Linked DNA regions of Homo sapiens. The protein of the gene in region 1 purifies or fractionates together with the protein of each later gene. This does not show direct contact. Each region holds a gene or a part of one and is shown in the gene's direction. Other genes may lie near its edges. The genes, in order: NEDD1, CEP97 and TUBGCP6.

Region 1 (3,654 bases):
AATTCTCTTTAATAGTTTTTAAGACAAATGAATAAATTACTTTTTTCTTTAATTACTTTTGCTATGTTTAAAAATGTTACTAGCATTTGAGTCATACGCCCTCCAGATTCATTATGGTTCCAAAGTATTGATAAGGAAGCTAATAACTTCTAAAAGTGTGCATGTACATGCTGTGCAATTACTGGGAACATATACACACATGCACATAGATGATATTTCTCCTGATATAGTTGTGTGTTTATTGGCCATTTGAATTTCTAGTAAATTCGTTAATGACTTTGGCTCATTTTTAATTCACCTGTTAAATTTGAATTTTACAATTTTTGTTATGGACTGGCAAATGAATATTACAGGATTAAAATAATCTTATACATATTCTACCATGGAAATAAACACTAATAAAACTTTGTTCTGCTTTGCAAAATATTTTTGTATTATTTCAATTGATCCTCAAAGCAATTTTGTGAGCTTATCTGGACATTATCCCCATTTTATAGATGCAGAAACTGAAACTTAATTGCATCTGAGACTTGTCCAAGGTCACAAAGCTATTAAGTGGTATAGGCAGAACTGGATTATAGCTCTCCATAACCTACCCCCTACACCAGGGCTTGTTACACTATACCTTGCTGCCTCATTAAATGACTGTACTATAGAATTATCTGTTCATATTTGCTGCTAAAGTGTGAATGAAGCTAAAATAATGTAAAAGAGAAATTTAAATCAGTATTCTCCTACCTTTAACATCACTCATATTTAGCTTTTTAAGATTGTTAGTCTCTGAACTCTTTGGGGAATGAATAAGAAGCCTAAATTGATATGGTTTCTTTTTCACTAGTTTTAAAATTTGATTTTCTAATTTGTTATAGATGCTGTAGTTAACAAGGGAAGTGATGAGTCCATAGGCAAAGGAGATGGTAAGAACTACTTAGAAGTATTTTCGTGAAAATGAAAAGTGAATTGTATTATCTATGCTGTGTAACAAATCTCTCCAACACTTTGAGGCTTAAAAAAATAAACATTTATCGTCTCATAATTTCTGTGTATTAAGAACTGAGCATGACTTGGCTGAGTACCTTTGCCTTCAAGTCTATCTTCCTGCTTCAATCAGGATGTCAACCAGAGCTTCATTCAACTTAAGACTCAACTGGGCAGGGAACTGTTTCCAAGCTCATTCCTATGGCTGTTGGCTGGAGATATCAGTTCCATGCCAATGAGCTTCTTTATATATGGGGCAGCCAACAACATGGCAGCTGGTTTACCTCAGAGCCGGTGAACAAGAGAATTCGAGAGGGCATCCAAAATGGAAGCCCTCTCTTAAGATTATGTTAATAACCTTAATCTTGGTAGTGACATCTCACTACTTTTTCATATTACTTTTGTTAGAAGCAAGTTACTAGGTCCAAGCCACGTTCAAAGGGAGGAGATTACCCAAGGATAGCGACGCCAAAGGCAGGGGTCATTAGAAGCCATCTCAGAAATTGCCTTCCAAGATACATACCACAGATATATACCAAATTAACAATTTTCAGTTATCAAGAACTAATACTGACTAAAACATTGTGTTTTGCTGTTTTCAAAGTATTTTCACAAATAATATCTTTGAAGCCTTACCACTCTGGGAGATGGATATCATCATTTACATTTGTAGATCGGGAAATAGTCACAGAAAGTTTAAGACTTTTGCCCAAAAATACACATCAATTGCGGGGTGTATCTGAGAAACAAACCAGTCTTCAGAATGCAGATCCATATCTTCTTCCATGTTAATCTGCCTATCATGTTAAATGCTTTTCTTCAATGTCCAAAATTGGAGGACACCATATGCACATGCAGTTTTTCCCTTTTCCAGGCTTTGACTTTCTACCGCAGTTGAACTCAGTGTTTCCTCCAAGAAAAAATCCAGTAACTTCAAGTACTTCAGTATTGCATTCTAGTCCTCTTAATGTTTTTATGGGATCTCCAGGGAAAGAGGAAAATGAAAACCGTGATCTAACAGCTGAGTCTAAGAAAATATATATGGGAAAACAGGAATCTAAAGACTCCTTCAAACAGGTATTTGCCTGAAAATGATACTGAACTCACTGTATGTGTTTATCAGTAGAAAGTGGGTGGCTGCCAGTGCATGTATCCTAATTATTAGCATTGCTATGCACTTATTCATAAGTCTTGATGTCAGATTTTAATAACTACAGAATACTTTGAAATCTCGCTTTGGATATGTTGAAGGTTACAGCAGATGGAAAGTTGCAGTATTTTTCTAAGATGAGATACTTGATATATCTTGATAAAGTGTGCAAGAACAGTTTATCCCTGAATCCTTTTAAAGTGTATTTCATTGCAGTATACAACATCAAGTTGGTGGTTAAATCATTAGAGCAAACTGATGGTGCTGAGAATGGAATTTATCATTGTTACTTTCTGCTAAAATATATATATATAATACAGAATTTAATTTTTTATGTAAGGGTTCAAAATGATCAAAAATTACCAGGAAGGCCAAGCCAGTTGGGTATACAATATGTCTGTATTTTCGTATTTATTGTTTAGAATGATATTGAAAAGATACCATGTAAGAAGTACAAAAACATCTTTTGATTTATTTTGCAAATATTATTGACTGGTTACCACATGCATGGTGTTTTTGTTTTTGTTTTGCCAGTTATCTCTATTTTAAATGATACTTAACAGCAGGTGCTTAGTAAATGAGCTTTTCCTCATGTTATTGTTGAGATTGTTTTTGATTAGTAAGTGTTACTTTATTTTGCCTCCAGTTCTCTTTTTCTTTTTCTTCTTCTATATCTCTTCCTATTTTCCTTCATTTCTATTAACCTACATACTGGGACAAAAGAGAGAAGTAGGCAAAAATTATATGGGTAATATGAGTAAAAAAATTGTATATTAAAGTCATTATTTATTTTAAATATAAAGTTAGCAAAGTTGGTCACATCTGGTGCTGAAAGTGGAAATCTAAATACCTCTCCATCATCTAACCAAACAAGAAATTCTGAGAAATTTGAAAAGCCAGAGAATGAAATTGAAGCCCAGTTGATATGTGAACCCCCAATCAATGGATCCTCAACTCCAAGTAAGTACATGAAACTTCCTGATGTTTGAAAGTGTTTGATTGAAAAATCATCCCCATTATTTAACTTGTAAAGGAGAAATAGAGTAATCATAGACTAAAAATGTTCAAAGAGTTTAAAGTTTGTGGACACTTCTGTTGTGTGAGTGTTACTAAAGACAATGAAATGGATATGAATCGTTAAATTCAGGTACGTTGATTTGATCTTTTGGTGTGAATTAGATTTTCAGTGTAATATGTGTCTTTAATATGGTAGAGATAGAATTATTATGTAGGACCCTTTGAAAAGGGTTGGTTAACTACCTGAAAATGTCTTTTTCTCTTTCATATTAAAGTCTTATCCTTAGAGTTTGTGCTGCAGACCCATACAAACTTCATCACATTTAAAGGAATATTTGGTTTAACTCTAAGAGTTATCTACACAAAGCAACTCTTTGTTTACAATCAACTCTCATATAAATATCTATATTTTGCTTGAAGTTTTCTGTGGATATATATTGCATTAGCTTAAACTCTAAGGCTTTTCCTGTAGCAGTACTTTACTCCTATTTTCCTTCGGTTTGTTTTTA
Region 2 (3,654 bases), on another chromosome or scaffold:
AATAATGTGTTTTGAATTATTGTAGATTACGAAAAGAAAGAGATGAAGAACGTATTAAAAAATTTGTACAAGAAGAAGCTTTCAGATTCCTTTGGAACCAGGTAAACTCCCTCCTGCTGATTTACCTCATATATGATCAAATACAGATTCTATATTCATTGAGATAATCATAGAGTACTCAGGTGTATTAAGCACTCTTGTTCAAGGTTAAGGGTATGGCTTGTGTTCTTCGCCACTAACTGTGAACTAGGACAGTGAATTTTCTTGCATTTTATTTAATCTGAAGAAAAATATTCTGACAATTTTGACAAGAAAAACAAAATAGTATAAAGCAGGAGGAAAGTGGCTTAACTGAAGGCTGTTAGAGCTTTCCAATAGATACAACAACCCCAATTTGAAATTTCATGTAGCTATCGATCTGTCTTTTGGGAATATTTGAATGAATTGTGATTAAGATGGTATATGACTACAATATGCATGTCCTAAAAAGTATTCATAACTGTATAGGAGAGTATTTGAATCCTATAATAGCACACTTTAGGGACAGTTTAGGCAGTTGGTTTTACTAGCATTGTATCACATCAAATACTTCTTGATGATAATTTCTTGAAAATATTTTAATAAAATTTTCATTTCTTCTTTTTTATAGAAATGGGGTCTTGCCATATTGCCCAGGCCGGTCTCAAACTTCTGGGCTCAAGCAGTCTTCCCTCCTCAGCCTCCCAAAGTGAGCCACATCACCTGGCCAAATTTGTTATAATAGGATTTGACCTATAAAATGAAAAAATAATTATTGATTTGTAAAGTTTTGTAGTTACCAACAATAGAGGAATGGTTAAATTATAGAATAATAATACTGTGGAATACCATGGAATAGTTAAAAAAAATAAGGTAATGGTATTCACCAACATGGAAAGATCTCCAAAATAATACTGTTTAGTAAAAAAAAAAAACAGCACTAGCGCATTACAGCCTTGAACTCCTCAAGTGATCCTTCTGCTGCAACCTCCCAAGCAGCTGGGACTACAGGCACACACCAGTGTGCTCAGCTTCCCTGTATATTTGAAAATACGACCTAGAAAAAAGTCTGGAAGGATATGCATCAAGTTGCTGTCAGTAATTACCTTGGGCGGGGGGTCAAAGGGAAACTAAAAACTGTACATACTGCTTTCTTGTTTGCAGTTTTTACAGTAAAATTTTGGAATTTTTGTTATACTTTAGAAATTAGGGGTCATATTATCAAGAATTTGGTATGTTTTTAGGTATTTTAGAAAGTTGCATATACTATATTGTTAGCTAATACTTAAAAACTGTAATCTCTACCTGGGTATCTAAAATGAGACTTATTTTACAAGATCTACTTATTTCAAGGGCTCTAACCTGTCTTATTGAATAGATCTCATTATATCTTGAATACATTATTGACCCCTTATTCAGCTAGGCATGTGCTGTTGCGCATTATTGACCCCTTAGTCAGCTAGACATGTACTGTTGTGCTTCTTGCTGTTTTTCTTGTAGAAGCAAGAGAATTGCTTTGGCCCATTCCCACTCCTGGTGAGGGCCTTTTGTTACCAGGGACATGTACCATTTGTGCCAGTCTGGTTTTAGGCTTGGGATGCTATGGAAAAGATAAAGGGAGTCAGCAGTTTCTAGCTCCAGTTCTGCCATTTGCCAGCTTCATGACTGCTGGAAAAAAGAGCTCAAAGGAAAATTGTAAAATAGACAGGTGGGGTGTGGTGGCTTGTGCCCGTAATCCCAGCACTTGGGAGGCCAAGGCAGAAGGATTGCTTGAGCCCAGGAGTTCAAGACCATCCTGGGCAACAAAGCGAGACCTCATCTCTACAGAAAAAATTTTAAAAATTAGCCAGATGGACGGACACGGTGGCTCACGCCTGTAATCCTAGCACTTTGGGAGGCCAAGGTGGGCGGATCACCTGACGTCAGGAGTTTGAGACCAGCCTGACCAACATGGGGAAACCCTGTCTCTACTAAAAATAGAAAATTAGCCAGGTGTGATGGTGGGTGCCTGTAATCCCAGCTACTTGGGAAGCTGAGGCAGGAGAATTGCTTGAACCTGGGAGGTGGAGGTTGCGGTAAGCCGAGATTGTGCCATTGCACTCCAGCCTGGGTAACAAGAGCGAAACTCCATCTCAAAAAAAAAAAAAAAAATTAGGCAGACATGGTGGTGGGCACCTGGAGTCCTAGCTGGTTAGGAGGCAGAGGTGGGGTGGGAGGATCACTTGAGCCCAGGAGGTTGATGCTGCAGTGAGCCATGATTGTGCTGCTGCACTCCAGCCTGGGTGACAGAGCGAGACCCTGTCTCAAAAACAAACAAACAAAAACAACACTTTTTATTTTATAATACAACTGTATTCTCTGGTTTATAGGTAAGGTCTCTACAGGTTTGGCAACAGACAGTGGACCAGCGTCTAAGTTCCTGGCATACTGATGTTCCTCCTATATCAAGTACTCTTGTGCCATCGAAACATCCATTATTTACCCAAAGCCAGGAGTCCTCTTGTGATCAAAATGCTGATTGGTTTATTGCTTCTGATGTAGCTCCTCAAGAGAAATCATTACCAGAATTTCCAGACTCTGGTTTTCATTCCTCTCTAACAGAACAAGTTCATTCATTGCAGCATTCTTTGGATTTTGAGAAAAGTTCCACAGAAGGCAGTGAAAGCTCCATAATGGGGAATTCCATTGACACAGTCAGATATGGCAAAGAATCAGATTTAGGGGATGTTAGTGAAGAACATGGTGAATGGAATAAGGAAAGCTCAAATAACGAGCAGGACAATAGTCTGCTTGAACAGTATTTAACTTCAGTTCAACAGCTGGAAGATGCTGATGAGAGGACCAATTTTGATACAGAGACAAGAGATAGCAAACTTCACATTGCTTGTTTCCCAGTACAGTTAGATACATTGTCTGACGGTGCTTCTGTAGATGAGAGTCATGGCATATCTCCTCCTTTGCAAGGTGAAATTAGCCAGACACAAGAGAATTCTAAATTAAATGCAGAAGTTCAGGGGCAGCAGCCAGAATGTGATTCTACATTTCAGCTATTGCATGTTGGTGTTACTGTGTAGCATGTCTTTTGGGAGGCAGATATCCACTTAACTTTTCTTAAAAATACTTTCAGTTGCCTTTGCTTTTTTTTGGAGGGAAATACTCCCTACCCCTAATTTTGTTACTACTTATATAGAATTTGTATTCATGTCTTATATTTTTCAGATTCTAGATATTGAGCTGAGTTTTCATTTTGATTTTGTTAGCTTTTTACTTAGCTGTAAGGTACCAAACTATTTATATTGAAAGCTATATGCACTTTATTTCTTAACTGAATTGCATCAACAATGTTCCTGTTTCTTTCATGTACTCATTTACTTTCAAAAATAAGCTAGAATATATTAAAGAAAATAGAAAAAATTACCTTAAATATATAAATAAGAGAATTTTGGCCCTTCTGTGTCTGAGAAAATTAATTATATAGCAAGGAATGAAATTTGATAAAGCAAATATAAATGAGAAATATGAGGATTGTGAATTATTGAAATTTGCCAGTCTCCCTGGTGTAAAATGTTTTTTTAAAGCCTTTTTTCCTCCTTTCGGAGTCAAGGAAAGCCTTTCTATAAGCAAATTAAGGAAGAA
Region 3 (3,654 bases), on another chromosome or scaffold:
CCTCACCTCGTGATCTGCCCGCCTCGGCCTCCCAAAGTGCTGGGATTACAGGCGTGAGCCCGGCCTGATTGTTCTTTTTTTTTTTTTTTTTTTTTTTTTTGAGATGGAGTCTTGTGTAGGGACCAGCCCTACAGGGTCTGTGGGTTTTTCTCTCCATATGCGGAGACCAGAGATGGTAGAAATAAAGACACAAGACAGAGATAGAAGAAAAAACAGCTGGGCCCGGGGGATCACTACCACCAACACGTGGAGACCAGTAGTGGCCCCAAATGCCAGGCTGCGCTGTTATTTATTGGATACAAGGCAAAAGGGGCAGGGTAAGGAGTGTGAGTCATCTCCAATGATAGGTAAGGTCACGTGGGTCACGTGTCAACTGGACAGGGGGCCCTTCCCTGTTTGGCAGCCGAAGCAGAGAGAGAGGAGACAGCTTACACCATTATTTCTGCATTTCAGAGACTTTTAGTACTTTCACTAATTTGCTACTGCTATCTAGAAGGCAGAGCCAGGTGTACAGGATGGAACATGAAAGTGGACTAGGAGTGTGACTGCTGAAGCACAGCATCACAGGGAGACGTTTAGGCCTCTGGATAACTGCGGGTGGGCCTGAGTCATGTCAGGCCCTCCACAAGAGGTGGTGGAGCAGAGTCTTCTCTAACTCCCCCAGGGAAAGGGAGACTCCCTTTCCTGGTCTGCTAAGTAGTGGGTGCTTTTCCTAGGCACTGACGCTACCGCTAGACCAAGGTCCGCTAGGTAATGGGCGTCTTCCCAGGTGCTGCCATTACCACTAGACTAAGGAGCCCTCTAGTGGCCCTGTCTGGGCATGACAGAAGGCTCACACTCTTGTCTTCTGGTCACTTCTCACCTTGCCCCTTCAGCTCCTGTCTCTGTATGGCCTGGTTTCTCGTAAGTTACAATTGTAGAGCGAAGATTATTATAATCTTGGAATAAAGAGCAATTGCTACAAACTAATGATTAATAACGTTCATATATAATCATATTTATGATCTATAGTGTAACTATTCTTGTTCTATATATTTTATTGTACTAGAACAGCTCGTGCCCTCGGTCTCTTGCCTCGGCACCTGGGTGGCTTGCTGCCCACAGTCTTGCTCTGTCGCCCAGACTGGAGTGTGGTGGCGCAATCTCGGCTCACTGCAACCTCCGCTTCCCGGGTTCAAGCAATTCTTCTGCCTCAGCCTCCCGAGTAGCTGGGACCACAGGTGCCCACCACCACGCCTGGCCGATTTTTATATTTTTAGTAGAGACGGGGTTTCACATGCTGGCCAGGCTGGTCTCAAACTCCTGACCTCAGGTGATCCACCTGCCTCAGCCTCCCATAGTGCTGGGATTACAGGCGTGAGCCACTGCGCCTGGCCCCGGTGTACAGTAGTGTTTTAATGTTGAGTGTGATTTTTTTAATTCTGGGTTCCCCACATTGGAATTTCCAGGTCTGAGGCATCTCAAAAAGTTTCACTCTAAGTTCCACTGAGGCTTATGTGTTACATGGAATTGGAAATTGGCAGCCTTGACGACTTATTTTGTTTAATTCCTTAAATGGCTCATTGGTGGGAAACATTGTATGGTACACATGCGCTTGAGAAAAACAGAAGAAACATTTTGTTAGGTCTTTGCATAAAGTTCCTGAAATTCTCATCGCCCTTGGATGAAACGTGGACACAGCAATAAGTGGCGGTTTGCCCTTCCCTGTGTCTCCAGGTCCCACCGAGTGTGGATCAGTGGGAAGACGAAGGATTCCAGTCAGCGTCCAACTTGACTCCTGATTCCCAGTCTGAGCCCAGCGTGACCCCAGACGTGGACCTGTGGGAAGCCGCACTTACCTATGAGGCCAGCAAGCGGAGGTGCTGGGAGCGAGTTGGCTGGTGTGTGCCCTTCTTTGCCTTGGCATGCAGTGCCCCTACCCCTGCATGAGCGTGGCCTTGGATGGGGTGTGTGGGGGGCGTTGTGTACTCAGGGGTCCAGGCAGTTGTGATGGGTTAGTAACCTAAGCTAGTGTCCAAAATTGACTGAGTCCTGGGAGTTAAGAGAGATGCAGAGGGGAAAGCACTAACAGCCTTTAAGGAGGCCTCACCTCCCCATCCAGTAACCAGATCACACCTGTCGGGCAGAACTCCCCTCCCTGTGCCAGTAACCAGATCACACCTGTCGGGCAGAGCTCCCCTCCCCGTGCCAGTAACCAGATCACACCTGCCAGGCAGAGCAGTTGGGGCAGCTAAGTTATGTCCTTAAGAGCAAGAGAGCTGCCTGGCAGGCTGTGTGATTAGTGCCAGGAAGAAATGCTCACTGGGCATGGGGTGCTGATGAAGGAGCCTTTTCCATTCATGTCTAGAGGAATTGGGGTGCTGATGAACACGGAACCTTTTCCGTCCGTGTCTGGAGGAGTTGGGAGGGGCAGTCTGGGTGATGAGAAGCTCCAGCTGCAGCAGCTTTTTCCTGACTGGTACCAGCAGCTTGCTCTCTGGATGCGGTAGCCACTCACTCCCTGGCTCACCTGGGTCCAGAGGCCTCTGCACTCAGCACCTCTCAGAGTCTTTAATGTGGTGGTATCTTTTGATAACTCCCAGAACCCAGGCAGAGAATATGCATTTCGCCTGGGCGCGGTGGCTCACATCTGTAATCCCAGCACTTTGGGAGGCTGAGGCGGGCAGATCACTTGAAGTCAGGATTTTGAGACTGGCCTGGGCAACATGGTGAAACCCCGTCTCTACTAAAAATACAAAAATTAGCTGGGCGTGGTGGTGCTCGCTTATAATCCCAGCTACTCAGGAGGTTGAGGCACAAGAATCACTTGAACCTGGGAGGTGGAGTTTGCAGTGAGCCGAGATTGCACCACTGCACTCCAGCCTGGGTGACAGAGTGAGATTGTCTCAAAAACAAAAAACAAACAAACAAAAAAACACGCACTTCCCCAAATGTTTGGCCATGGAATGCCCCGTTCACATCCAGTCCACTGGTGATCCTGTGGGTATCGGTTTGGGGAGTGTTGGGTGAAAGGGTCAGGGCTGGCTGGGAGCTGAGTGCTCTGGGATGCAGTGGCTGGGCTCTGGCAGCCTGGACAGGAGCATGTGCCCCCGGGTGGGCGAGCTTTCCTGACATCATGAAGATTCCCTCAGGGTTGGCTGTCTCCCTGCTTCCCAGCACGGTGGTGGTGGCTTTATCCTGACTGCCAGGGCCTTCCTGCTGTGTCACTTCCTGCTGGTGCATCAGTCAAAGCAAATCTCATGGTCCTGCTCTCTGCCAATCCCTCACACGTTTAAAAACTGGCCTTTGGGAGGCTGAGGCGGGTGGATCACGAGGTCAGGAGATCGAGACCATCCTGGCTAACACAGTGAAACCCCGTCTCTACTAAAAATACAAAAAATTAGCCAGGCGTGGTGGCGGGTGCCTGTGGTCCCAGCTACTGGGGAGGCTGAGGCAGGAGAATGGCGTGAACCCGGGAGGCGGAGTTTGCAGTGAGCGGATATTGCGCCACTGCACTCCAGCCTGGGTGACAGAGCGAGACTCCGTCTCAAAAAAAAAAACAAAAAAAAAAACTGGCCCTACAAGTTATTGCTTTATTCTGTACATGTCTGCTAATAGTATTTTTTTCTGTTTTTTTTTTGTATTTATTTATTTATTGAGGCGGAGTCTTGTTCT

Evidence for each region.
Region 2: the proteins of NEDD1 (region 1) and CEP97 purify together in Homo sapiens (affinity purification with mass spectrometry; 2 studies listed by BioGRID and IntAct, with this or other methods). This does not show direct contact.
Region 3: the proteins of NEDD1 (region 1) and TUBGCP6 purify together in Homo sapiens (affinity purification with mass spectrometry; 3 studies listed by BioGRID and IntAct, with this or other methods). This does not show direct contact.

What each region holds. Positions count from the first base shown.
Region 1 is NC_000012.12:96,941,708-96,945,361, forward strand, and holds part of NEDD1 (protein NEDD1), read left to right. Parts: intron 1-869; coding exon 870-917; intron 918-1,852; coding exon 1,853-2,055; intron 2,056-2,931; coding exon 2,932-3,088; intron 3,089-3,654. UniProt on the Homo sapiens protein: Required for mitosis progression. Promotes the nucleation of microtubules from the spindle.
Region 2 is NC_000003.12:101,762,460-101,766,113, forward strand, and holds part of CEP97 (centrosomal protein of 97 kDa), read left to right. Parts: intron 1-25; coding exon 26-101; intron 102-2,387; coding exon 2,388-3,092; 3' UTR 3,093-3,654. UniProt on the Homo sapiens protein: Acts as a key negative regulator of ciliogenesis in collaboration with CCP110 by capping the mother centriole thereby preventing cilia formation. Required for recruitment of CCP110 to the centrosome.
Region 3 is NC_000022.11:50,238,430-50,242,083, reverse strand, and holds part of TUBGCP6 (gamma-tubulin complex component 6), read left to right. Parts: intron 1-1,716; coding exon 1,717-1,880; intron 1,881-3,654. UniProt on the Homo sapiens protein: Component of the gamma-tubulin ring complex (gTuRC) which mediates microtubule nucleation.